2 separate regions of the Homo sapiens genome follow, and region 1 is linked to region 2. The links come from fine-mapping of genetic effects on gene expression. A gene starts in region 2. The other region holds a variant in brackets. All regions are shown on one strand. Distances are from middle to middle.

Evidence for each region.
Region 1: its variant is fine-mapped to the expression of CHD7 in whole blood (INTERVAL, PIP above 0.99).

What each region holds. Positions count from the first base shown.
Region 1 is chr8:60,737,623-60,740,535 of GRCh38, forward strand. All of the region lies in intron 1 of CHD7 (chromodomain helicase DNA binding protein 7), which reads left to right. Among named protein-coding and RNA genes, the nearest start is that of CHD7, 60 kb to the left of the region's middle. The variant G/A (reference allele first, on the strand shown) is at 1,526.
Region 2 is chr8:60,677,253-60,680,165 of GRCh38, forward strand. CHD7 (chromodomain helicase DNA binding protein 7) reads left to right here and starts at 1,488. Exons shown (of 38, transcript NM_017780.4): 1 at 1,488-1,830. RefSeq lists silencers at 1,036-1,475, 1,836-1,935, 2,596-2,913.

The DNA.
Region 1 (2,913 bases), 60 kb after region 2:
GCATCTTCTGAACTGTCCTTTAGTTCACATCTCAGAAAATGCTGGCCAATAGGGCACTGAGTAGAAACTTGAATTACTATGTCTCCATTATATGCATAGGTACCGTTTGCTACATATTCTCACATTTAGTTAGACTATTCCTCATCAGAAGTTACCGAGGAGTATTTTGTAAAATGGCAACCTATATTTTTAATAACATAAGCCCTGAATCTTAGTTCTTATTTAAGAGATGCATCATTTACAGATATATAAGCTCCATGAGGACAAGAGGGAATTTTGTTTTATTCACAGATCTCTCTCCAGCTCTTAGACTAGTGCCTGGATCATAGTAGGTGCTCAGTAAATACATTTTGAATAAATAATTGTGATTTGAGAGTTAATTTTTATGTAACACCAAATAAAACATAAATGCAACTTGAATGTTTATTACCCAGGTGATAATTATGAGACTTTAAAAAATTTCATTGCTAATTTGTTATTTCTGTTTCTTCTTTTTAAATACTTTATGCTGTCCAGTATGGAAGCCACAGCCCCATATGTCCATTTTTTCACTTGAAATGTAGCTAATAGGAATTGAGATGTACTGTAAGTGTAAATTACATACTGGGTTTCAAAGACTCAATACCAAAATACGTAAACTAGCTTATTCATTTTTTTATATTGATTACCTGTTGAAATGACAGTATTATGCATTTATTGGTTTAAATAGAAATTGGTAAAATGGATTTCACTCTTTTGGTCTACTATTAAAATGTAGCTACTAGAAAACTAAAAATTACATGTAATAGCTCGCATTTGTGGCCCATTGAACAGTGTTCATCTAGACACAGAAAATCTAGATATTGAGTGTAGACGAGAGGGAAGCTTTCAAAATAGGGCTTTGAATGAATATCTTTTATAGAAACACAAAATTATACAATGCAGCTGCGACTTGGGAAAGTGGGCATTCAGATGGTCTTGATCAAATTTAAAAAAAGGACCAAAACAAATTAATTAGATTATCTCAAATCAGAAATATGAAATGCAGCTACCAGATGGATTCCTGGCATAGTTGCCAGCTGGGTCTTGAGGTCAGAAAAGGGGCAGGAAGGCGTTGGTGGCTGTCCCAGTGAGCGGTCACTAATGGCAGACTGCAAAGCCAGTTTTTGAACTTCTCTGCCTGGACCTTACCTGAGCATGGTTGTAGTTGTGCCGAGCGACATGCTTAGTTGATACCATATAATGCTGGCGTTTTTCAAGCGTCTGGGAGATGGACACTTAGTAGAAGGGCGTAGGGAACAGGAAGAGGAGCACAGCCAAGGATCAGTATGGGTACTCTCAGGCAGGGCTGTTTTTCCCTACTCATGCGCATAGGCAACTTGTCCCTCTTCTGAATCTTAAGCTGATAAAAAGTTAGCACCAACTTCATCGCCACTTCTCCAAGCTTGATCTGACTCTGCCTCTGCCTCTGAGCTCAGTGGGCTTGCAAGAGAAGGTCACCAGTGGGCTAAGCCATCCACTCCCTCTGGGCTCACTTTTACCTGGA[G/A]CTGGCCTGGAGCCCCATCGAGTCAGTAGCATTTCTTCCCATAACAGTTGGCGGACCCTGGAGGATGAAGCTGCTCCCCAGGACACATATGTAGACGTTACTTTCCTTAAGCTAATTTGAAAGGTTATTTTGGTAAGTGGTTGGGCTGCATGGCTGGTTTAAGCTATTATCAAGTCCATTCCAGTATTTATTTCTTTGAAAGTTAGAATGAGCCTTGAATAAATGATGACTGACTGCTTAGCCTTCTTAGGAGTGTATTTAAGAATATTTGTTGCAACTGGCACTGGAGATGTCTACTTCTCTTTATTTTGGATTTTAAAATAGTTGTATAGTAAAGCAGCGTGTTTTCAGTAAAATAGCTTTCATGCTCACCTTATTTTCACCCATCTGACCTCTGTATTTGGAGAAAGTAGATCAGAAAATTCATGGCAGTTAGCGGCAGAGTGAAGAGACCTTTGACTTTAGTTGACAGCTGTCACCTGAAAACTACAGGCCTGGAGACCCTCTCAGGTGTTATGTCTGTAGTTCTGACAGTGAACAGGAATGTTGTTTACATTTTCTGTAAGCAAAATTCTCCCCTTGTTAGGAATGTGTTAGAATACGGCAGGCAGAAACAGAATTTTTATGTGTCTTACTGGTAAGTTCTCAGGAGTGTTGGTTAGCCCATTGTTCATTCCCATGCTCTTATGGAAGGGTGTCAGTAGAATTTATGACTGAGCCTGTTTTTATCATCACTTTGGAAATTCTTCAACAAGATATTGTTTTTTTCAAGTGAGCTAGTATCACACAATGCTTAATGTCCTTATAAAAGAGAAAAAAATGAGTTAAATTCCAAAGATGTTTAAGATTTCAGTCATTTTCTCTATATGAATTAGGTCTTTATTAGGCCGTTGATTTAATTAGTGTTCAACAAAAACACTTTCCTGTTTAGATTGTCAACGCATTCTTTAAATTAGTTATTTTAATCTGACACAGGATCTGTTAGGAAGAGTTTGAATAAGATGCAGCATGTTACATAGTGTACACAGTGCGCTGGAAGCACGTAGGGTGCGAACACAAGTGCCTGCCAACTTGTCTCCCTTCCTGCTTAGGTCCTGCCTTGTCCCAAAAGGACTTAAGGCAATGGTGAGGAGAGCATATTTTGAACTTTATTCTGTAAAAATAATTTTCAGTTTTGGAGAAAGTTGTATTTCTAGTTATGAGAATAGTTGGTGTCCACAAAGTATCCACTCAACTAGTTTTCTCTGAGTGGTCACGTGGGATTCTGGTCCACCAGAGCCCAGCATGCCTGCGGGTGAATAATGAGCCTGGTGATTGGGCTGCTCTGTGTCAGTGCAGACTGGGACCATGGTAGGCTCAGAGCCATGAGTGAAATTGGTCGTCTTGGA
Region 2 (2,913 bases):
ATTAAAACATTTATTTCTTTTAGAACAAAACTCAAATACATGATGAAAGCAAGCTAAAAGCAGTGCATTTAACAAACCACAATATAATGTGATATATTTATAGAATTATTACTAAAATCAGAAAATCAATGTCTTAGTGATTAAGTCTAGGATAATCAAACTTATTGAATAGTTGCAGTAGTTACTTAATGAGATAGTTTTGATTAATCTTTTGTCCAAATAACAATATTGTGATTACAGGCTTAGCACTACAGGTAGTGTAACCATCAGTGAGTGAGATTAGTACATTTTACATAGTTTTGCTATTTTCTCAGTTTATTTTGGAGTCCAGTAATAACCAGTCAGTCTGTACCTGCCATAGGGCAATCTTTGGTTGATATGAGTTCCTTTCCTGATTTTAAAATAAGTGCAATCTTTAACCTAATAAAATTATCTTAAAGTTTACAATTGATGGTTTAAACACATTATAATTGCTCCGTATTTTGCAGATAGAAGAGGCTTAATCCATGTTTGTAGATCTATTTCCTAAAATAAAAATTAGTAAAAAAAAGTTTTTTTTCTTCAGGTTTAACATTCATTTTGTACCGGGAAGAGAAATGGAATAAGAGGCTCGGATTTTTAAGACTATGCAATCAGATACAAGTGCCATTTTGGCCAAAGAATGAGTAAAACATTCTAGTCCCGACACGTTTAATAATGGGCATACATCCTATTTCTTTGTTTCATAATCATTGAGCTCTCTGCCTTCTCTCTCTTTTTTGGTATGGTAACAAATTCGACAAAATCAATGCCATCTAGTTAAACTTTTTGATTAAGTAGTGGATCCGGTGTCCTATCCACGAAGAGGTGGGAAAAGCGATGTGGAGAAGCAGGCACGAACCCATCTGGAATGGAACATGTCCCTTCCGAATAATTTCATGTGGGAAAATAATTTCAAGTTGAAGGATAATTACTGCAGAGACTGCCAGTCACCCCCGGCCGCCGCCGGCCGCGCAGCGTCGGAAACCCTTCGCGGCAGCCAGGAGGGTCGCAGCCCTCCCGGAGCCCCGCTTCCTGCCCCGGGGCGGCGCACCCGGCTCCGGGAAGGTGCCGCGCGGGAGACGTGGCAGCAGCCCCTCCAGTCCGCGCCCGGGCGCAGCGGCCGAGCGCTCCGTGCAGCCGGGCAAGGAAGACTCCGCGGCAGCAGCGCACCGGCCGGCGGGGAGACCCGCCTGAAGCGCCGGCGCCCGCCAGGGGACGGGAAGTGGCGCCCGGCCCGCCCTTGCGGCCCGCGGCCCGCGGCCCAGCAGCTCCGCGCCGCCCCTTTTCTCTCGGCCTCTCCCTCGGCCTCCGCCACCCCGGCCGAATTCTTGCATAAATTATGCCAGGCGCGCCTGACGTCAGGTGGCGGCGCGCGGGCGCGGGCGCGGGCGCGGCGCGGCCCGGAGGGAGCTGGCGGCGGGCGCGCGCGGCCCCGCGGCTTCGGGTGCGCGCGGCGTGCCGGACGCGCGCAGGCGCTGGCGTGCTGGGGCCGCGGCGGCGGCGGCGGCGGCGGCGGCAGCGGCGGCGGCGGCGGCGGCGCGGGGGTTGAGTCGTGGTGGTGCGGACGCGCTCGTGCTCGGGAACTATCGGATTAAACTTGAATCGAGTGAAATTACACAAAGGAGCGCCGCGGAGGAGGCGGCCCGGGGACCCGGACACCCTGAAACTCACCAGAGACCCGTTCGCCCCCGGCCAACTCCGTGCCCGTGGATTCAGCCCCCTGGCCGCAGCTGCCGAGCCAACTCCGGAGCCCGCTCTGCGTTTTGTTTTCCCCTCGGCACTAGGCAGCGGAGGAGCCCGACCGACCCGGTGAGCGCGAGAGTTCGCCCGGCGCCCCCGGGAGGGGCGGCGGCGGCGGCGGCGGCAGGAAATCGCTCCGGGCCGGGGCCGGGGCCGCGCTAGGAGTTGGGAGCGAGGAGTTGGGCGTGTGCGGGGCGAGGGGCGAGGGGCGAGGGCGGGAGGGGGCCGGGGCCAGCGCAGGAGCGCAGCGCCGCCCGCGTAGTGTCGCCGGCGTCGCCGCCCGCGGGGCCCGAACCCGCGCCCCGAGCGCCGCCCGGCGCCCCAACTTTTGCCTGCGTCCGCCGGGCCGGCGGCGGCGGGGGCGCGCGGTGCGGCCGAGGGTCACTTCCTCGCATGTAAATGGCTTTTTGTTGTGCTGCCGGCGTGGGGGGGGGGTACGGGGGACAGGAGGGAGCGTGTCTGCGCGCGGGGGAGCGCGAGCGCGTTTCCTCCCGCCGGCGCCGAGCACGAGTTGCCGGCTCCATTCGAGAGAAAAAGGAAGGAGGAAAAGTTGGGCTCCAACTCAAGTGCGAGCGGGCGATGGGCGCGCGGGCGCGGGGCGGCTGAGCAGCGGCGGCGGCGGCTCGGGGACGGCGGCGACCCCCGCCTCCCGCCCCCGCCCCCCGCTCCGGACCGACCACGCCGCGCTCGCCGGGAGCTGCGGCCGCACCGGCGCGAACAAAGTGCGTTCCTCCCGGCGCGGCGGCGCCAGCCCGCGCGGGGACCGCCACCGAGCGAGGTGGGTCGGCGGCGGGGAAAGTGCGCGGGGCGCCGCGTGGGGCGGGGGCAGCGCGAACACGCGGCGCGGGAGGCGTCCCGAGCTCAGCCAGTGCCGGTCGCGGGCGCGGAGTTGCGAGCCCGGAGTTGGGGGCTCCTGGGGCTCCCCGGCGGCTCCCAAGTGCGCTAGGAGGAGAAGAAAGGGAGCGGGGCCGGGGCGAGCGCCGGGAGGCGCGGCGAGGAGGGGACCCCACCTTGTCGAGCTGGCCGGGCCGCCGGCGGCGGCAGCTGCATAATAGCGACTTTAACCTTCCAACGCAACTCGGCTCCCCCGCCCCCCAACCCGCCGGGGGTCAGCGCCGGTGGGGGGTGGTCACCAGGTGGCCCCCGAGGTGA